Linked DNA regions of Homo sapiens. The protein of the gene in region 3 interacts with the protein of the main gene of each other region in a biochemical or structural test. Each region holds a gene or a part of one and is shown on either strand. Other genes may lie near its edges.

Region 1 (4,853 bases), on a different chromosome or scaffold from region 3:
ACCATCAAGAAGGTAAGCAAATTCTGTAGGACGGAACTCACATTTGAAATAAATAAGGGAAGAGGGTCTCCAATTACTAAGCAGAAAGCAGCCATGATATGGAGAGCCAGGTAGTAGACCTGGGGAGTATATGGAGTGGGGCTATATTTTCACATCATCATGGACCTGGACTGATCCAGGCACTTGGCTTCTCCATATTTCCCAGCACCTTACATAGTAAGTGGAGTGGCAGATTCTCAGCAAGCCAGGCACACTCCCTTGATGGTGCTATCCGGGGGTGGGACAGTTAGGGAACTGTGATTTACCTGGGGCAAAAAGGAGTGGAGTAGACCCAAAGCTCCTTTTTTTGCTTGGAGAATCCCCTCACAGGTAATGAGAGGGACCTGCCCTGGAGAGAATGTGCCTTCATGATGTCCCTTGTTCCTCTAGGATGTGGATGGTGCTTATATGACCAAGGTGGACCTTCAGGCCAAACTTGACAACTTGCAGCAGGAAATTGATTTCCTTACAGCACTCTACCAAGCAGTAAGTCTTCCAGTTTCAACCAAGTTTATCTAAATGGAGAGTTTTTAAGCCTGAACCCACAACGATTCAGAAGAATAGATATTTATCTTTTATTTTCTGACTGCTTTCTCTGTCTAAGTTGTTTTTTGTTTTAGTGCTGTAAGAGTCACTAACCTATTATGTCTTGCAGGAGTTGTCTCAGATGCAGACTCAAATCAGTGAAACTAATGTCATCCTCTCTATGGACAACAACCGCAGTCTCGACCTGGACAGCATCATTGCTGAGGTCAAGGCCCAGTACGAGGATATAGCCCAGAAGAGCAAAGCTGAGGCCGAGTCCTTGTACCAGAGCAAGGTGAGTGGGCTGAAAGCCTAGCCAGTTTCCCTGAAATGGCTTGTCTTGCTATCCTGTGTTATCTCATGTATGTGTGCCTGTGCCATGCTGAGTTCTGCCTACATTTAACAAACGCTATCTACCATCTTTAGTATGAAGAGCTGCAGATCACTGCTGGCAGACATGGGGATAGTGTGAGAAATTCAAAGATAGAAATTTCTGAGCTGAATCGTGTGATCCAGAGACTTAGATCTGAAATCGACAATGTCAAGAAGCAGGTATGTGCTTTCTCCTTCTACCACTCAGCTGTATGGAATGGGGGTAACCCTCAGGTAAAGGGCGAGTGCTTTCCTAGTTTTGAATCTTGCAATTCATCCCAAGGCTACATTATTATCCCTGGTTCCTTTTGTGACTATGCTAGTTTCCAGAATGCAGCCATCATGCTGGGTTCTCTTTAGGGAAATCTGTGAGAATGGCCTAGTAGAGAAAGATGGGATGGTCAATGTGAGTGATCTAGCCTATGACCCAAAGTGGACTTAAGAGTTGGGGAGTGAGAGGAAGGGCAGCCAGGAGGTTTTAGAGTAGGTGTTTAGAAGAATGTCAAGTCTGTAAGGGTTGTAGGAGCCTTGACTCAGGGCCAAGAGAGGCTGTTGAGTTATCCCTAAGGTCTTTTAAGGAAGTCAACATGGTGATGTGTTATCTGGAGGTGGGTGTGAGATGACTTAAGGCCAAGTGGTTCTGTTGGACTCATTATTGGCCTCACTGGAGTGGGGAGACCAATTGGGATGAGGAGGCCTAGTGGGGAATGCATATTATGAGAGGGTGTCATATTCTTTTTCAGATCTCCAACTTGCAGCAGTCCATCAGTGATGCAGAGCAGCGTGGCGAGAATGCCCTCAAGGATGCCAAGAACAAGCTGAATGACCTGGAGGATGCCCTGCAGCAGGCCAAGGAAGACCTGGCCCGCCTGCTGCGCGACTACCAGGAGCTGATGAACACAAAGCTGGCCCTGGATCTGGAGATTGCCACCTACAGGACCCTCCTGGAGGGAGAAGAAAGCAGGTGAGGAAGGGACGCTGGGAGTCGAACCTCTTCTCATGGTCTTCCTTCCTTGCAAGCTGATTGTTGTTGAAGATGCAGCCATCTGATTGCAGCTTGTGCTGGGTATGGGGAAATGAAAAGTACACGGAGCAGGAGGAAGGACCTAGTTTTACTTTGGGAGCTGGAGTCCCAAGCTGTTTATTTTTTTCTTCTAGGGCTGTAACATATCTAGAAAGAGCTTTGAGGTGGAGCAAATTATTCTTTATCTGGGCTGCCTCAGATGGCAGCTGGCCTAAAGTCGGCATCTTTAGAGGGGGCCTTCATTGGCTGCAAGGCTCTTGTCTCGTTTATATGGGAATTTCTCCGTGTTTGTACTCTTGCTGAGAAAAAATGACAGGTCTGGGAGGCCAGAGGGGATTGGATTAAGTTTCAGATTAAGTGCATTGGAGAAGACCCAGATGGGGAAAGTCTTCAAGGTGGTGGAGCGGGGAATGGGGAAGCGGTTTGGGAAGCTGGAGTGTCCTGAGGAATTTTCTTATTTTCTCCTACAGGATGTCTGGAGAATGTGCCCCGAACGTGAGTGTGTGTAAGTACAAGTCGATTTCTCAGGGGCATGTGCAGGCTTTGTTGGGCTGGAAACGGAGTTGAGGTTGAAAATAACTGAGCTTCCTCTTGCAGCTGTGAGCACAAGCCACACCACCATCAGTGGAGGTGGCAGCCGAGGAGGTGGCGGCGGTGGCTACGGCTCTGGAGGTAGCAGCTATGGCTCCGGAGGTGGTAGCTATGGTTCTGGAGGTGGCGGCGGCGGCGGCCGTGGCAGCTATGGCTCCGGAGGTAGCAGCTACGGCTCCGGAGGTGGCAGCTATGGCTCTGGAGGTGGCGGCGGCGGCCATGGCAGCTACGGCTCCGGAAGCAGCAGTGGGGGCTACAGAGGTGGCTCTGGAGGCGGCGGCGGCGGCAGCTCTGGCGGCCGGGGCTCTGGCGGCGGGAGCTCTGGAGGCTCCATAGGAGGCCGGGGATCCAGCTCTGGGGGTGTCAAGTCCTCTGGTGGCAGTTCCAGCGTGAAGTTTGTTTCTACCACTTATTCCGGAGTAACCAGATAAAGAGATGCCCTCTGTTTCATTAGCTCTAGTTCTCCCCCAGCATCACTAACAAATATGCTTGGCAAGACCGAGGTCGATTTGTCCCAGCCTTACCGGAGAAAAGAGCTATGGTTAGTTACACTAGCTCATCCTATTCCCCCAGCTCTTTCTTTTCTGCTGTTTCCCAATGAAGTTTTCAGATCAGTGGCAATCTCAGTCCCCTGGCTATGACCCTGCTTTGTTCTTTCCCTGAGAAACAGTTCAGCAGTGACCACCACCCACATGACATTTCAAAGCACCTCCTTAAGCCAGCCAGAGTAGGACCAGTTAGACCCAGGGTGTGGACAGCTCCTTAGCATCTTATCTCTGTGCTGTTTTGGTTTTGTACATAAGGTGTAAGCAAGTTGTTTTTCTTTTGTGGAGAGGTCTTAAACTCCCCATTTCCTTGTTTTGCTGCAATAAACTGCATTTGAAATTCTCCATGTCTCGATCGCCCTTGTTTACGGCACTGTCTAACCTGGATGGGTGTTTTGTGAGGTAAAAGAAGACACTAGAGCCACATGGCATATGGGAAAGTCATGCACACAAACATGAGAAAAATGCAGAGGCCAACCAGGCAACATTTCACCAGACTGGAATCACAGAGAGAGCAAGCACTTTCCCAGATGGTGGGGATGTCATGGAGAAATGGAGAGACCGGGTGACAGGTTTTGTTCATTTGAGAAGGCTTTCTTGAAAAGGGCAGTGAGCAAGCAGGTTGGGAGGAAGAGGTGTGGCATTGAGAAGAAGGGAAAGTATTGCATGAAAAAGTAATTCTTCACGTGGAACAGCCAGTAAGGAGGGGCATGAGTAATATAGGGTCAGCAGTTACTGGAGCCAGAATACAGACTTTGGCCTGGGGAGTTCAAGAACTAAGAGTGGTAATAGAGAGTTGGATATTCCATTTCCCTTCTCTTTTTGTGCCACCACCCAAAGCTCTGCATAATCTAAGAAGTTCCCTTGTTGACACATAGCTCATACTTGTGAAGTTGTACAACAGGATAGCATAGTGGCCAGAAGCATGGACAGTTGAACTCAGATATGCTTGGGTTTGAATCTTACCATCACCATTTACTAGTTCTGTAATACAGTGCAAGTTACAGACATCTCTGCACCTCAGTTTTAGTATGTCTAAATTGGGGATGATAATGCCTTCCTTGTGGGAATAGTGTGAGGATTGAATAAGATGAATACACAGGGCTGAGCACACAGCAAGCACTAAATAAGTGCCAGTTTTAATGATAATGGTGATGATGATGATGATGATGATGATGACGTAACATTGCTTGTGGGACTCCATACAGCTCAGTAGATGCTTGCTCAAAGAAGCAAGTTACCAAAATTTTTGTAATGGTTCTCTGAACGTGAAAAAAGCAGTCAACTTCTCTGAGGATCAATTTCCTTAGTTTCCAATTAGGAAAAGTCTTCTTAGCTCCAGAGTCCCACAGGGCTAATGGAATAAGGAGAGGATAGATCACACATGTATTATGCAAACACAACTCAGGTGAGCTCTATTCTTCCTTCTCAGTTATCCCTTCTGTAGGGACCCCAGTGTCCCCTGCTGTCTTTCTGTGTCCTGACCGGGAAACACAGTGTGCCTTGTCTACTCCATCACTTGGCCAGCTGCATGCTTTCCTTTGCAGGCTTGAAGCAAAGCTGGGTCTCGGGCATTCTCAGGCACTGACAAAGCTGTTTAGTTGTTGCTGGGAAACACTGGGAAATAGCCCTTTTGTTAAACACACAGAAACTAGCCTTCGCCCTGAGCCAAATTCCTTAAACTCGTCTATGAAATTCCATAACCTGACTCCTTAACTGCAGACATACCCAGCTAGAACATCCCTCATGTCCCTGTC
Region 2 (8,922 bases), on a different chromosome or scaffold from region 3:
CAGCAAAATGATGGGCTCCAGGAGCACCCAAAAGAGGACCAAGTAAGAGTCAACACTGCCTGATAACACCCCAGGGGGCTATAAGTGCTCTTTAAATCCTAAGATGCAGAGTTAAGAACTAATAGGGAGCCTTCCTTCAAGGACAATTATAACTTGAAAAAAGAAACAAGTCAAAGCGATGTGTCATTAGCAGACCGTAACTAGTACAATTGTTCCTTAAGGCCTTGGAAAGGGAAAGTGGTGAGGGAGATGGAACCAGTGGGTGTGATGAATCCAGGGAAGCTTCCTGGAGAGGGAACACCAGTAGCCACGAACCACTGCAGAGCTCTCCTTCTCCTACCCACCTCTAAGCAGTTCTCCCCATGTAACACCGAGGATCAGCCACCCCTTCAAACTGTTGGCCCAGAAGGGCAGTAGAAAGGAGGAAAATGGCAGCCCAGGAGGTACCTGGAGTTCTGTGACACTTCCTGGGCCAGGACTGTGAGAGAAAACTGTTCCCATTCCAAGTCAACAGTACAAAGGGCTTCCAAGCACTACTCCTGTCCTGCCAAAGCTCCCAAGCCCCTGTCCTGTGTTCATTTTATTCTTTACAGCCACCTGCTGCCCCTTTAACCTGTTAGATAAGTAGTCAGCACTCAGTCATGAGAACCCATGTGTGTAGCTCTGGATACTTCAAGGTTGTGATGAGCATGCTTCCATCCAACTGGGGCTCACCAAGCTCAAGAAATGAAATCTCAGACTGGGGCCCAGGAGCCAGGTGCCTCTACTCAGAGAAGCAGCCTTCTCAGAGTAGTTTGCAGCTGCTCTTTCCTAAATCCCCCCAACATAGCTTGTTAAGATGGCCAAGCTGTGCATCACAATGCGGGAGGCCCTCACACTGTCTCCTCTACCTGCTTCTCTCTTGCTCTGAAGATGCCTGTAGCAGGAAGATGTGAGCTTCCCACAAAGATAAGCTAAGCTGAGATGCAGAAAGAACAAATCTCCAACTTTTTTGTGATTTATGAATCAGAAGCTGGGTTGTCTCCAAAGGATGCATCTGTGATTGTGGATAAGCCCCAATGTGTCCTTAACACCCTAGACTGCCACATCTTTCTGAAGAATCACCACCCTTCACACACACACACACACACACACACACACACACACACACACTTCCTATACGGGGCCTTCCCATCAGATAGATATTGTGAGGGTGGTCAGGGAAGCAGGCTAAAATTCCACTAGCCCAGTGTTAGCCCAGTGTCACTTCTATAGCTGGCCTTGGATCCCCTGCACAAGGCTTGTTCATTCTGCACAGTGGCTAGGTTTAATCTGTAGTTCCATGCTGAAACCCTCCACTCCTCATCATCTGACAAGATCATCTCTCAACCGCAGTCAGTCAATAGGTCTCAAGAGTTCCTTCAATTCCACTGGGATTTACTGAGCACCTATTAATGCCCAGCACCATGCCAGGCACTGTGTAGCATCTGCTTTAAGGACCATCCCCTCTAAGGATACAAGTATAGGCAAGAACCATGTCCTAATCTGTCAAACTGCAGAAGTCAAATGTGCTATCAAGCACACCTTGCAGGGTTAGGTGTCTAAAGGCTATAAACCTTAAAAATCTGAACTGCCAAGTCTTACAAAACCCCAAATACCTATGTGTCATTCTACAATTCTACAAAGTCCCATTATTTCCTCACTGATATGATAAAAGGTGATAATCAGTTGCTGCCCACACAGATATCCCATTAGGACTACTGCTTCTGCTCCAGAAAGATGAAATGAGAAACCAGGTTCATATATTCGTATATCAGGCAAGGTTAACTCAGGGCTGAAAGCCACAAGATCTGGTACTCAGTATCATGTCACATCAACCTCTTCTGCATGTTAACGAAATATTTATACTAGTTACAAGTTATATATATATATATATATCTCTACAGATATATCTCTATATATATGTAACTCTATATATATATAACTTGTAACTAGTACACATATTTAGTTAACATGCAGAAGAGGCTGATGTGACATAGTTATATATACATATATGACTATATATAGTCATATATGTATATAAAACTATATATAGTCATATATGTATATAAAACTATATATAGTCATATATGTATATAAAACTATAGTCACATATGTATATAAAACTATATACAGTTATGTATGTATGTAAAACTATATACAGTTATGTATGTATGTAAAACTATATACAGTTATGTATGTATGTAAAACTATATACAGTTATGTATGTATGTAAAACTATATACAGTTATGTATGTATGTAAAACTATATACAGTTATGTATGTATGTAAAACTATATACAGTTATGTATGTATGTAAAACTATATACAGTTATGTATGTATGTAAAACTATATATAGTTAAATATGTATATCCTTTCTTATTAAATGCTATATAGGGTGGCAGAGGCAGGCATGGGGCACCATCCCCACCCGCGACTCTACCAAAAAGACCCATGCATAGCTTTGGAAAGCCTTCTGGCTCTTTGATGCTTAACATGGTGCCCAGTACATTTGTTTTGGCTGGATTAACAAATAAAGAATTAGCATCTTAAAATTAATAGAAAAAAAAACCCTATATTTCTTAGAAGAAAATGAACCCCCCAAAGCCAACATGGACAATTTGAAGATTAGTCATTTTGGGTCAACTGTACTTTAGGTTCCCGTTTTGTTTATTTTTTGAGACAGGGTCTCACTCTGTCACCCAGGCTGGAGGGCAATGGTGCAATCTTGGCGCACTGCAGCCTTGACCTCCCAGGCAGAAGCGATCCTCCCATCACAGCCTCCTGAGTAGCTGGGACTACGGGCACATGCCACCATGCCCAATTAATTTTGTTTATTTTTTTGTAGAGATGAGGTCTCACTATGTTACCCAGGCTGGTCTCAAACTCTTGGGCCCAAGCGATTCTCCCACCTCAGCCTCCAGAGTAGATGGCACTACAGGCGCATGGCACCACACCTCGTTAATTTTTGTATTTTTTGTAGAGACAGGGTCTTGCCATGTTGTGCAGGCTGGTCTCAAACTCCTGGGCTCAAGCAATCCTCTCACCTTGGCCTCCCAAAGTGCTAGAATTACAGGCATGAGCCACTGTGCCCGGCCTAGTTCCCAAATTTTAGAATTCCATGGAGAAGTAATATCTCCCTCAGAAAAAAGTGGTAATCATTACACCATAGCCAAATTTTCATTTTGACATGGCAGGACATAAAAGAAACAACTACAGCCTCATGTCACCACATCTTTTAAAGGAAGAGGTAGGAAGGCCATGATTTCAGAATTGAAGACTTTCTTTCCCAAGAATACCCTGCTGACGTCCTTTTACTTACACTTTTGCTAAGGACTGGTGAACACATAGCAATGGGCCAACAAGGGACCACACATATCAGTACTGGGAACCGTCGTCCACACGTGCTCCTCTTTCCAATGTGGCCCAGCTAAATAAAACTGTTCTTTCTTATACCCACAGCAATCACTAATCGCGGCCTGTTTCCCTCCAAATTCTCCACACTGCCTCAACTTCAAGCAGAGAAACTTGCCTTCTCCAACAGATCCTGTCTTCTCCCTACTGGGTCTCCTCTAAGGAGGAGAGCACCTGAGTTCCTCTTGGGTTCACCTGGGTTTATGCTGTCCAAACTGAAACTAGTGCCACAAGTTTCTGATGGCCACAGTCTAATCAGGATCATCTGGATCATTAAAAGTGCACTATAATTAAGAATTTATTATTGGAGCTGTCATTTCAAAACATAACTGGGCAGAACAAAGTTTGACTGTGGTATCTTAAACAATACCAATTGACTTCCGGTTATGAAAGAAGCAGCATCCTGTTCTGCATGCGCAGAGGTGATGCTACTGGTCCAGAGTCAACAAGAAAGTTTTGAGTTATTCTCCTAGGAGAAGAATTGGACTTGCCCAATCCCTCCATGGACTCCTTTCTGGCCTTGGTATCCAAGGGAAGGCCAGGTTGGAAGTAAGGATGTGCTGTTATATGAGAAAACAACAAAAAAGACAGCATCACCTTCTACACTTAACATAACTATTCTCCCTTCACATGCCTGTGAAATAGGTACTACTATTTTTATTTGATAGACAAGGTAACTGAGGGTCAAAAAGCTTGATCATTCCACAGTCAATAAGTACTTACTGAGTGCCTCCCATGTGCAGGTACTGCACTAAGAGCTATGACTCTGCCCAAGGTGACACAGCTGGCAAGTAGCAAAGGGAGCACCCAATCTGTCACCTAATCTCAAGTCTATCCCATTCAATGACTGCCCCTCAGGCTAAGGTCAGTGTTTTGCCACACAACACCACAGGACAACAGAGCCAAAGAGCCTTTGTGGGATCACATGGTCCATCTCTTTAGTTTGCTCTGCTGCAAGGAAAGTCAGTATTGATTACCCTTCTCAGACTGTCTCAAATGCCTGCTGTCTCTGGGGATGAATCAAAGTAGCTTCCCACGTCACATTAGTTACAGCACTGTCTATGGTGTGCAGTCCAGAGCTGGGTGCTGGGGACTCATGCCTCCAGTGGGCAGGACAGAAACACCCCAGCAAAACACACATGAAATCCTGGGAGATAAACTTTTGCAAAGGAGTAACGGGTTCTAAAGTTTTGAGGATTTTTAGAGTAGCAGGACCAGAAGTCAAACAGTAGGATTTAGAAGGTCCTACTCCTTGGATAAAGCACTGAGATCTTCAGTTTGACTCTCTTAGGGCACCTCAAGACTCTGGGACCTATTCCTCAAGCACAGCCCTGTGGTCACCTGGTATGCATCCTGTGCCAGAGGTTTTGGAAACAATGTCTGCCATCCACTCTGACTGGGTGACCCCACTGATGAGCCTGCCACACTGTTGCATCAGAGAAGGGGCCAGTCACACACCAGGCTGCCCATCTCAAGAATGCCAAAACCTTCATGAATGGGCCATCCTGTGCCTGCAATCACAGGGAGGTGGGGCCGACAGCCACGGGTCACGTAACTGAGGCCAAACACAAGAAGCTGGCCTGGATCAATGAGTCAGGGAGAGCTCTATATATAACCTCAGGAGATCAGTGCTCCTCACATTGCCAGCATCTTCTCTCCTCACTCACCCTTCCTGGTGCTTTGGGTAAGTGTGGTTCTACTGACTCTCTCATTTTCCCAGCTGGTCTTGCCCAGGCCTGACTAGATTAGATGGACCAGGGCCTCTTTCCCCTTTGGGAGCTATAGGACCTCTGCCTTCCCAAAAGCACTCACATTTAGAGGGCGGTCAGGAAAGGAGCAGGGGATGAGCTGCTGCCATGCAGATGGTGTTTCTGGTCTTCTGGCCAGAATGTAAACTCCACAAAGACAAGACTATCTCCTGCCTCTCTGGCACCCGCATAGGGGCAGGCATGGTGCCGGGCACAGAAGGACTCTGCAGAGGCTGTCCAAGGCAGCCTGTGCACAGGCTGAGCAGACCTTGTGAACCTGTCAGGAGGAGAGGCTGAGCCACTCTCAAGAGAGTAGGGAGAATGATCCAAAAAAGTTGCAGATGGGAGGGATTTCAGGTGCCACAGAAATCCAATTGCTGTTTTACAGAGTTAGAAGTTCTGAGAGGGAAATACAACTTCCTACTAGTCAAAGTCCCTTCTACCAAACTTGGACTTGAGAAAATCATGGAAGAGATGGCTAATAGCTTCTGGTCGGGGATGTTGGTCCAAAGGACCACCAGGGTCCTTCCCCTGTTTCCAGGCAGGGCCACAGCAGAGCCTGTCTTTTCTAGTGACTAGCCCTTGGTTCATGGCCTAGCTCAGTGGGACAGACCAAGAGTTTGAACTAAGAGCTTCTGCAGAGGATGGAGTGCAACAGCCCTCAATAGAATGAAGTCCGACAAACCTCTCTCTGTTGTGCTGGGAATGGGTAAAATCTCCTATCCTAGGTAGAGGTTTGTGGTAGTTTTCTATTTGCACTCAGAGAATCAGTGTTGAGATTGGAAGAGGCCTGAAAGATGAAGTGTTCAAACCCTTTCATTTAACAGGAAATGAGAAAGAGGCGGGCGTGTGGGTGATCTGCCCTCAAATCACACAACAGTGGTCAGAGGCAGAGCTGGGAGAAAGAATGGGCACTGCTAACTGGGCTGTTTAAAGCATAATGAAGGCTTTCTGCAGGGGAATGAGGAACTCAACTTTTCCAAAAGCAGCAATCATAAGAAACCCCGCTGAGGGCTCTCCGGGCACCTGAAGGAGCCCTGGGAGGATGGCGATGTTGCCTATGGATGCAGCTGCCTCCGTAAGTATCCTCTTGCAGCTGGTCCAGCGATGCTCTCTTCTCCCCTTCCAGGCTCTCCTTCCTTCTCAGACAAGATGTCTTATCAGAAAAAGCAGCCCACCCCTCAGCCCCCAGTGGACTGCGTGAAGACCTCTGGCGGCGGTGGCGGTGGCGGCGGCAGCGGCGGTGGTGGCTGCGGCTTCTTCGGCGGCGGCGGCTCAGGGGGCGGTAGCAGCGGTTCTGGCTGCGGCTACTCCGGCGGCGGTGGCTACTCTGGCGGCGGCTGCGGCGGGGGCTCCTCCGGCGGCGGGGGCGGGGGCGGCATTGGAGGCTGCGGAGGGGGCTCCGGTGGGAGCGTCAAGTACTCCGGAGGCGGCGGCTCCTCCGGCGGGGGCTCTGGCTGTTTCTCCAGCGGTGGGGGCGGCTCCGGCTGCTTCTCCTCCGGTGGCGGCGGCTCCTCCGGGGGCGGCTCCGGCTGCTTCTCCAGCGGTGGGGGCGGCTCCTCCGGGGGCGGCTCCGGCTGCTTCTCCTCCGGCGGCGGCGGCTTCTCGGGCCAGGCGGTCCAGTGCCAGAGCTACGGAGGCGTCTCTAGCGGCGGCTCCTCCGGGGGCGGCTCCGGCTGCTTCTCCAGCGGCGGGGGCGGCGGCTCTGTCTGCGGCTACTCTGGCGGCGGCTCTGGCTGCGGCGGAGGCTCCTCTGGCGGCAGCGGCTCCGGCTACGTCTCCTCGCAGCAGGTCACTCAGACCTCGTGCGCGCCCCAGCCGAGTTACGGAGGGGGGTCGTCCGGCGGCGGCGGCAGCGGCGGAAGCGGCTGCTTCTCCAGCGGCGGGGGCGGCGGGAGCTCCGGCTGCGGCGGCGGCTCCTCCGGGATTGGCAGCGGCTGCATCATCAGTGGCGGGGGCTCCGTCTGCGGAGGTGGTTCCTCTGGAGGCGGCGGCGGCGGCTCCTCCGTGGGTGGCTCCGGGAGTGGCAAGGGCGTCCCGATCTGCCACCAGACCCAGCAGAAGCAGGCGCCTACCTGGCCGTCCAAATAGATCCCCCAGGGTACCACGGAGGCGAAGGAGTTGGAGGTGTTTTCCAGGGGCACCGATGGGCTTAGAGCTCTCATGATGCTACCCGAGGTTTGCAAATCCTTCATGTCTTAACCTACCTGGAAGAAGCCATTGAGCTCTCCGGCTGCATCTAGTTCTGCTGTTTAGCCTCTTTGGTTTCTGTACAACTACCTCCCAACCCCAGTGCCTCAGTCAATAAATTTGCAAATTCATGAGAATTTTTAGGTCTCCAAGAGTATTTGTAGTGTTCAAGTTCATCCATTCCATTCCATTCTTCTCCTTTCCTGCATTCGCTCATTCACACTTACATTCATTTTACAAATGCACGGACTCTATTGGCGGAAAGGTGAGTGGATAGATGGGAGTCACCAGGAGAGGGAGGAATGGCTGGCAAACGAAGGTCAAACATATGAACATTCTAGTGTACGGCTTAAAATCATGACGTGATCCCAAAACACAAAGATCCTGAGGAGAGACTTCAGTAAACACCTCCCTGTGGATTGAGTAGCTACTGTGGGTCTCCTTACTGAACTCTGTTTTTTAAAGACAGGCTGCCCTGGAAAGACGCTGTCTCTCACAGTCCAAAGCCAATTCTGCAAGGTCTGAAAGCTGGGTGGCTGCACATTAGGAGCACCAGCTCATGCTACTCAGACTCACGGAGAAATAAAAAGCATATCAGATGTTTACGGGCCCCTAGGGTGAGCAAGACCACTTTAGTAGGTACCCGTAGGGAGAGGAGGTAGTAGGGGAGCTGTTTCCTGCTCTCTCACTCTCTCTCTCGTTTTTTTTTTTTTAATTTCAATCAGCTTTCTCGGGTTGAATGTTTCCTGCTCTCTTGAAGGAACTTTACCTAACTTAGGAAGATGCAGCATACATATACGAGATGTAAAAGCTTGGCACCAGAAAGAGGTCATGGAAAACACAAGAGCTTCCAATTAACAAGGAAGAAGCGACAGTTGCTCCAAGGGATGTATTAATTGCAGAGCCCTCAAAAGAGATGTAGAACATCAGCCTGGCCAGGGACTTTCCAGGTTCTGTTTCATATCCTGATTTTACCAGCTCTAGTTAAATGCCAATTTACTGATTTACTCAAGAAAAACTCCTGCTACGTCAAAAAGCCAAAGTACCCTTCCTACTCAATCACTGCTGGGGGGAAAAAAAGTCTTCCTCCTCAACTCTTCCATTTAGGATCACTACCATGCATCATTTTACATCGGTAATTCATGGAGATCAGAATAAATAGCAGTCTTAAAGATCCAGGAGCCCAACCACTGCATTACTTTCATGTTTTTTAACAAATGAAAGTCAGACTTTCAGTTCTGGACAAAATGAAGTAGATGTATTTCTTACTATCGCTCTTATGAAGTAGAACTAAAATCTCTGGGCATAATATATAAAACAAACATAAGAAGACTTTGTAAGCTGGGTGGCTGCACGTTAACAGCACCAGCTTATGCCGTAAACATCTGATATGCTTATTATTTCTCCGGTGAGTCTGGAGAGGACAAGGCAGAGTAGCTAGAGTCCTCAGAACTAAAGGACTGACAGTGGTAAGTTTCCTGGGTTTTCTTTTTGCCTCCTGTGTTTCCCACATTGGGCACTAGAAAATCTGCAACCAAGATTCTGGCAGGT
Region 3 (8,651 bases):
AACATAGCACTGGAAGTCCTAGCTAGAGGAATCAGGAAAGAGAAAGAAATAAGAAGTTTCCAAATAGGAAGAGAGGAAGTTAAACTATCCCTGTTTGCAGGCAATATGATTCTATACCTAGAAAACCCCATAGTTTCTGTCTAAAAGCTTCTTGATCTGATAAACCACTTCAGAAAAGTTTCAGGATACAAAATTAATGCACAAAAGTCAGCAGCATTCCTATATACCAACAAATCTAAGCTGAGATAAATCAGAAATGCAATCTCATTAACAATAGCCAAATAAGAAAAAAATTCCTAGGAATATAGTTAACCCAGGAAGTGAAACATCTTTACAACAAGAATTACAAACCACTACTCAAAGAAATAAGAGATGACACAAATAAATGGAAAAACATTCCTATGCTCATGGTTAGGAAGAATCAATATTGTTAAAATGGCCATACTACCCAAAACAATTTACAGATTCAATTCTATTCCTATGAAACTACCAATGACATTCTTCACAAAAGTAGAAAAAACTATTTTAAAATTTATATGGAACCAAAAAAGAGCCTGAATAGCTGAGTCAATCCTAAGCAAAAAGAACAAAGCGGGAGGTGACACATTGCTTGACTGCAAACTATACTTCAAGGCTGCAGTAACCAAAACTGCATGGTACTGGTACAAAAACAGATACCTAGAACAATGGAACATTACAGAGCCCAGAAATAATTAATGCTGCAAACCTACAACTATCTAATCTTCAACAAAATCAACAAAAAAAGAAACAATGGGGGAAGGGACTTCCTATTAAATAAATGATTCTGGAATAACTGGCTAGCCATATGCAGAAGACTGAAATTGTACCCCTTCCTTAAACCATATACAAAAATCTACTCAAGATGTATTAAAGACTTAAATGTAAAACATAAAACTATAAAACCCTGCAAGGTAACCTAGGAAATATGATTCTGGACGTAGAACTTGGTAAATATTTCATGATGAAGATGCCAAAAGCAATAGCAACAAAAACAAAACTTGACAAATAGGACCTAGTTAAACTAAAAAGCTTCCGCACAGCAAAAGAAACTATCAGCACAGTAAACCAACAACCTACAGAATAGAAGAAAATATTTGTGAGCTATGTGTCCAACAAAGGTCTAATATCCAGAATCTATAAGGAACTTAAACCAGTTAACAAGCAAAAAACAGACAACCCCATTAGAAAGTGGGCAAAGGACATGAACAGAAACTTCTCAAAAGAAAACATACATGTTGCCAACAAACAAATGAAAAAATGCTCAACATCACAGATCATTAGAGAAATGAAAATCCAAACAGTAATTGAGATAGCATCTCACACCAGTCGTTATAACATAACATATGCTGTCAAGGTTGTAGAGAAAAGGGAACATTTATACACTGCTGGTAGGAATGTAAATTAGTTCAGCCAGCATGGAAAGCAGTATGGCAATTTCTCAAAGAACTTAAAACAGAATTACCATTCAACCCAAGATATTCCATTAATGGTTATATACCCAAAGGAATATAAATCATTCTATCATAAAGACACATCCATGTAGTATGTGAATCACAGAACTATTCACAGTATCAAAGACATAGAATCAACCTAATTGCTCATCAATGATAGACTGGATAAAGAAAATGTGGTATGTAAACACCATAGAATACTACGAGTCATAAAAAAGAACAAGATCATGTCCTTTGCAGCAACATGGATGGAGCTGGAGGCCATTATCCTAAGCAAACTTTCACAAGAACAGAAAAGAAAATACCACATTTTCTCACGTATAAATGAAAACTGAACATTGAGTACATATGGACACAAAGAAGGGAACAATGGACACTAGGGCCTACTTGAGGGTAGAGAATGGGAGGAGCGTGAGGATCAAAACACGAATCGAGTACTATGCTGATTACCTGGTGATGAAATACTTCTGCACACGAACCCCCCCATGACATGAAATTTACCTATACAACAAACCTGCACATGTACCCCTGAAACTAAAATAAAAGTTAAAAATAAAACCCCAAAATTAGACACACAGTCTGTTCATGAGGCTTGATGGAAACAGCAGGCAAGTTTATCCACTACTGGTGGGATTACAATATGGTACAACCCCTATCAAGGGAAATATGGCAATATTATCAAAATTTCAAATGCATTTCACCTTTGTATAAGCAAATATACTTCTGGGAATCTGGTTCACAAGAAAGCAAGCTAAGAAAGGCCACATGTGGTATAGTTTGTAATGGCAAAATATTGGAAACAACTTGCGAGGGTAGCAATGTGGGTTTATTGAAAGCTAAGGTAGTCTATAAATGATTCGCTCTGCAGCTTTCTCTCTCTCTCTCTCTCTCCAAGCAATCAAAGAACTAGAACATTACTAATAACCAACAACTTAAATCAACCCGTGTCCTTCTCACCCATCCAGAATGTTTTCTTCTCTCGTTTCCAGAGTTAGCCACTATCTTGTATGTCATTTTTATAGTTTTTTCATTTTTTATGTATCCCTTTTTGAGCTTTGCTTCATATGTAAATATGCCTAGGCAATATATTTCCCAGTTCTCCTTCATTTGAGTTTTATGACAAGTGGGTAATTCTAAATATTGTCACTGTGGACTTGTGTTGTTTATTCAACATTATTTTAATTATGGTCATATTGTGCATGGCTGTAATTCAGTTATTTTCATAATTGTATAATACTTCCTTGCATTAATATGTCATGACATATTTATGCATTAATATGTCATGACATATTTATCCAGTATTTTAGTATTGGTAACATGGACTGTTTCCAGTATGTTATTGTTAAAAACAGTACTTTTATGAACATTATTGTGCATGTTTCTTGGTAAACATGTGGAAATATTTTCCTTAATTAAATCTTTAGGAGTGCAATTGCTGAATTATAGATTGTGTACACATTCAATTTTACTAGCTGATGTCAAACTGTTTTTAAATGTTTCACCAATATAGACTCTCATTAGTAATGCATAAAAGTTTCTTTTCTACTACAAATCAATAAGAAAAGATAAACAACCCATTCAAATCTAAAATAAAAGTTGAAATTAAATAAATAAGTAAATAAAAGGTAAGATACTTGAATTGGCACTTCACAAAAGAGGATAGCCAAATGGATAATAGAAATATTAAAAATGGGCCGGGTGCAGTGGCTCATGTCTGTAATCCTAGCACTTTGGGAGGCCAAGGCAGGTGCATCATCTGAGGTCAGCGGTTCGAGACAAGCCTGACCAACATGGTGAAACTGCAAAATATAAAAATTAGCTGGGCATGGTGGCATGTGCCTGTAATCCCAGCTACTTGGGAGGCTGAGGCAAGAGAATCACTTGAACCTGGGAGGTGGAGGTTGCAGTGAGCTGAGATTGTGCCATTGAACTCCAGCCTGGGTGACAAGAGCGAAATTCCATCTCAAAAAAAAAAAAAAAAAAAAAAGGAGTATTAAAAATGGGTCAGCTTCACCAGTTATTAGGAAAGTGTAAATTCAAATCACAGGAAATCCCACAAGATGTCCACCTGAATGGCTAATGAAAAGGCAAATCATATGAGGCATTGGTGAGATTATGGAGCAAATGGAATGCTCACACATTGCTGATAGCAGTGTGAATTGGTACAATGATGTTGGAAAATTGATTGCAGTATTTATGACAGCTGGATGTATCTATACTCTGTGATCTGTACTCTGTGATCCAGCAATTCCATTCCTAACCATATATCCAAAATAAATGCATACCTATGTTCTGCAAGAGATATGTACAAGAATATTCATAGCAACACTATAATAGCTAAAACCTAGAAATATCCAATGTATATTGACAGTAGAATGAATATATAACATTTTTGGTATTTTTCATAGAATACTGTACAGCAGTGAAAATGATGAACTACAGGTGTAGACTTCAAAATGGATGACTCTCAAAAATATAATGTTGAGCAACATAAGCAGGACATATGAACACTATACCTTAGATTTCATTTACATACAAATTGAAAAAGTATACTAAACTGAATATATATTTCAGAATACAGACAGAAGTGGCATAACTATAAAGGAAAGCAAGGGCTAATTACCATAAAATCTTAGGAAGCAGTTATCTCTGGGGAGGAAGGAGAATGAAGCAACTGAGGAGAGGCATGGAGCATAGATATAGCAAATATTCTCCTCCTTTACCTGGCAGCTCATTTTAATGCTATTCTTTAAAGAATATAGGTATTTTCTGTGAGCTTTTTATTTGTTTGTATGGCTTATTGTACAATGAGCTTTTGTGTAAGGTAGCCAAAGGCTTCCACAGTCTGACATTCGTTTATGTCTCCCTCAGTTTCAGGCTTGGTGGGCATGTGGTCAGAGTCTAAATCGACAAGGGGTGGGGATTTCACCAGCTGAATTAGTGTCCAATAATTAGTTTGTTACCTTCCCTGCCTTAACTCCACCTCAACTCAGTGACTTTCTTAACTCAGATTCTGTCCCTGACAATACCCAACTTCAGGATATTCATTTCTATTACTCAGAACTTTTGGTAACAATGACAGAATAGTAAGTCAGACTAGCTGAAGCAGAGGGCTAATTTATTGCCTCATAACCCAACCATGAGAAGGGTGTGTGAAGAACTGCTCTCAAGGTAAAGGAGGGAAACCTGGCTGTGTCATCTGAATCTTCTCTCACCATCACTTCTCTCCTTGTCTCAGTGTATTAGAGTCGTTTTTCTCAGACAATTGATCTCCACCCCCAGACTTAGATAACCACTTCTGGAATTCCCTGGTTCATATATATCACCTTTTCCAGAAGAAGGAACCCCCGTTTTCCCCTTTCATTACTCATTCAAATAAAATATGTTAATAGACCAGACCAAGTCTCACACACAACACACACACACACACTCACACACACACACACACACACACACCCCTACCTGTGGTCAGGGGTCAGGCTTTCATGATTAGCAGTCCCCATTAGACTCACAAGTTGATGGTTCAAAGAGACAACAATTCTTCACAAGAAACAGGGTGCTGTTCAAAGAAGTGGGGAGGCATGCTGGACACACACACTGTAGATGTCCAATGTATACATGATACATGTTTTCTACTACTTTCTGATTATTTTCTCCCTACCACTGTGATTTCAAGGGCATCATCCCTCTTCAGACCTAGAATTCCACCTTCCAATTACTTTCTTGATGCATCTGAAAGGCCGTCTCTGAAACAGCAAAGTGCAATAATTAGTCATTATGTATTCAAGGCAAATTTGTCTTACAGAGTTTTTTGCAGGACCAGGGAAGAAGGAAGGAAATGCCCAGTTTGATGCTGGGAGTGGTAAAATGATAAAGTAGATCTGGGTGGGGTTTGTAGCACCAGAGCATAATGGAGAAACACCTTGGTTTTGTAATCAAGACTGGATCTACCAGTGACTTGCTGAATAACCTTCGGTGATTCCTTTCTCTTCTTGGGTCTCACTGTATTTCAAAACATGAAGAATTTCATTGTAATGTTACCTAATAAGTGAGCCAGCACTTCTACTCTGTGAGAAAGTAGGAAAACTCTTGGGACAATCAGAGATGATGTGATGTAATGTCCATTAGTTCTTCCTGTGAATAATCCTGAGGGAAAGCCCCCAGGTCCCTCCCAGAATGGGGTGGATATTTCCCAATACAGCTAAGGAATTATCCCTTGTAAATACCACAGACCCGCCCCTGGAGCCAGGCCAAGCTGGACTGCATAAAGATTGGTATGGCCTTAGCTCTTAGCCAAACACCTTCCTGACACCATGAGGGCCAGCAGCTTCTTGATCGTGGTGGTGTTCCTCATCGCTGGGACGCTGGTTCTAGAGGCAGCTGTCACGGGAGGTGAGTGAACAGGTGACCTGCTGGGCTGGGTTGGACTAAGGGGAGACCCTCTGGGACACCCTGGGCCAGGACAGGGAGCACTTCTGAAGCAGTAGGCAGCACTGGAGCCCAGATTTCAGCTTTCTGTTCTTTGCCATCATATTCAGAAAAAATAGGACTTTGGCTGGTGGACTCCACGTGCTTTCCACCTCAGTGACTGAGATATCAGGACTGTTTGTGGAAGTAATGTTGGTATGTGGCCTTGGCCTCAGATGTCAATACCTGTGCAGAATGTGCAATAAAATAATGAACTCCAGGATTTTAAACCTTGGGTGTGGACACAGTCCCCCGTTTCTCTGCCCCATAAAAGCACTGGAGTAATCAGTACTCTAAAAGGAGGTTAAGAAACAACAAGCCTTCAGGAATCATGTTGTTTGAGGACCCCCATTTTATAAGGAGGGAACCAAAAATGTAGAAATGAGTGAGCAATTGCCAAGGTAATTCCCAGAGCCAGGATGGGGCTCAAGTCTCCTAGTATGTGGCTCAGGGTTCTTTCCTACTCCAATGCACTTCCTAACAAATGACAATGTGTCCTCTTCACTGCTGGGTGTCACCCCAGTCTGACCACTGCTCCTGAGAGACTTGGAGTGGAGGAAGGGGGAAGAAACAAATACTCAAGGGAACTCTGGTCCAGTAGACCACCCCAAAAAAGGAAGAGCCTTCCAAGAGTGTAGCTCCCAGAGGTGTACCTTCCCTACTCAGGCCATGGTTTGAGGATGCTGCAGTAAGCAGTGGATGGACCCAGACCCAGAGGAAAGACATGGCAGCTGAAGCAGAGGCTTACTGGGTATAAATGTGGGCTCGTTTCTTCTTTTAACAGTTCCTGTTAAAGGTCAAGACACTGTCAAAGGCCGTGTTCCATTCAATGGACAAGATCCCGTTAAAGGACAAGTTTCAGTTAAAGGTCAAGATAAAGTCAAAGCGCAAGAGCCAGTCAAAGGTCCAGTCTCCACTAAGCCTGGCTCCTGCCCCATTATCTTGATCCGGTGCGCCATGTTGAATCCCCCTAACCGCTGCTTGAAAGATACTGACTGCCCAGGAATCAAGAAGTGCTGTGAAGGCTCTTGCGGGATGGCCTGTTTCGTTCCCCAGTGAGGTGAGCACTAGCTGGAGAACGAGGAGACCCCTGAAGACACAAAAGAAGGCTGAGCGGTGGGGAAGCATCCCAGGTTGGTGGGAGGGAGGTTGTGGGAGGTGACAGAAAGACTGGGAGACTGAGGGGTCTGAGAGGCTATAACCAGAGTGCCTAGAAGGATGATCTGTCTTCCTCACTGCCTCTGAGTGCTTTGATGTGCTGACTCTCACCTCTGATACTCTTCTCTTCCACAGAGGGAGCCGGTCCTTGCTGCACCTGTGCCGTCCCCAGAGCTACAGGCCCCATCTGGTCCTAAGTCCCTGCTGCCCTTCCCCTTCCCACACTGTCCATTCTTCCTCCCATTCAGGATGCCCACGGCTGGAGCTGCCTCTCTCATCCACTTTCCAATAAAGAGTTCCTTCTGCTCCACTTGTTTCTGGTTCCTATGACTTCTGGGCTCCTGGATGCTTTGGGGAAATGGATGTAGAATTGGGACTTCTTCTCTCCAGTGAAGAGGGGAAACGGTCCCATGGTGAAAGAGAGCAGGGCGGGGGGAGGAAACAGGAGGCACATTGCTAGGGCTTCATATTACAAATCCAATAATCAGCCCCAGTGCTGCCAGCTCCTTTTCACCAGGAAATGGAAATATGGAAATCTTGCCTTTGGCCAAGGACCAGGAAAAACACAAAACACAAAAAATAAATAAACATTACATAAACCATAAGCAGGTCTTTTTTTTCCAATCCACCATCAGTCCTGACCTGGCTACTGTCGGCCTTACCAGTGTGACCAGCCAACCCTTATGGCTGCAACTACAGCTCCCCACTTCCTTCTCATTAATGTTTCCCAGGAATCTATATCTTTTCAACACCACATAGAAAGGATGATGTTACAGATGCTGCGAAACTCCTGCTCTTTAGAATTTCACTGGTTTATGCCTGAGATTCCTCCATGAAGTAGCATTCCTTTAGGTTAAGCAATATTCTCTTCCAGATTTCTGTTTTAAGATGTGAATGAGGAGGCAAGATACACTAAGTCCTTCATACTATGGTGTCAGAGGTTTGGGTGAATAGCATTCTCTGGAGACATACATGTTGGGGGCAGGGCAGACTTGAGTAGTGGAGAAAGGGGCAGGAATATGAGCAACCTCATGGCTCTCCTGTTGACCCACTCGTCCCACTGCGATTGCACAAGGAAACTCTCAGAGAAGGCCACAGCCCCCAGGAGGGGAGCAGCCTGGGTGAAGGGGAATAAGCACAGGCTTGACAGTCAGGTGATCTCAGCACTGGCTTTGCCTCCCCACGTATTGGGTGACCTCTGGCAAATGTATGTCCCCCTTCCAGGCCTCAGAGGTCTATTTCAGTTGAGGGGGTAAGGTATAATTATTCTGCAAAGGAAGGTCTAATCCTGCCACTCTGGGATATGAAACAGCTCTTCTTTGTGTATTGGGTTCTTGCTCTGAGATGACATGGGGAGCAGAGGCTTGGGGTGAGACAATGTGGATCCCTGCACCACTTTGCCCCATCCACGAGCATCTGAGCCATGATTTTTCCCTATTGTTCAGAGGCTAGTCCGAACAACTGTAGGGCTTTGACACTAGGGTGTCTTGGAGTACAGGTGACAGCAGTACCCAAACTTCTGGCTTGACAAATACAAAATACATCATTGGAGGA

Evidence for each region. The genes of interacting proteins can lie anywhere in the genome.
Region 1: the proteins of PI3 (region 3) and KRT1 form a complex in vitro, tested with the Homo sapiens proteins (one study listed by BioGRID).
Region 2: the proteins of PI3 (region 3) and LORICRIN form a complex in vitro, tested with the Homo sapiens proteins (one study listed by BioGRID).

Annotation. Positions count from the first base shown.
Region 1 is NC_000012.12:52,673,322-52,678,174, reverse strand, and holds the end of KRT1 (keratin, type II cytoskeletal 1), read left to right. Parts: coding exon 1-12; intron 13-429; coding exon 430-525; intron 526-694; coding exon 695-859; intron 860-990; coding exon 991-1,116; intron 1,117-1,679; coding exon 1,680-1,900; intron 1,901-2,430; coding exon 2,431-2,465; intron 2,466-2,557; coding exon 2,558-2,982; 3' UTR 2,983-3,439; downstream 3,440-4,853. UniProt on the Homo sapiens protein: May regulate the activity of kinases such as PKC and SRC via binding to integrin beta-1 (ITB1) and the receptor of activated protein C kinase 1 (RACK1). In complex with C1QBP is a high affinity receptor for kininogen-1/HMWK.
Region 2 is NC_000001.11:153,254,617-153,263,538, forward strand, and holds LORICRIN (loricrin), read left to right. Parts: upstream 1-5,070; 5' UTR 5,071-5,117; intron 5,118-6,310; 5' UTR 6,311-6,333; coding exon 6,334-7,272; 3' UTR 7,273-7,508; downstream 7,509-8,922.
Region 3 is NC_000020.11:45,169,138-45,177,788, forward strand, and holds PI3 (elafin preproprotein), read left to right. Parts: upstream 1-5,764; 5' UTR 5,765-5,785; coding exon 5,786-5,864; intron 5,865-6,723; coding exon 6,724-6,998; 3' UTR 6,999-6,999; intron 7,000-7,232; 3' UTR 7,233-7,407; downstream 7,408-8,651. UniProt on the Homo sapiens protein: Neutrophil and pancreatic elastase-specific inhibitor of skin. It may prevent elastase-mediated tissue proteolysis.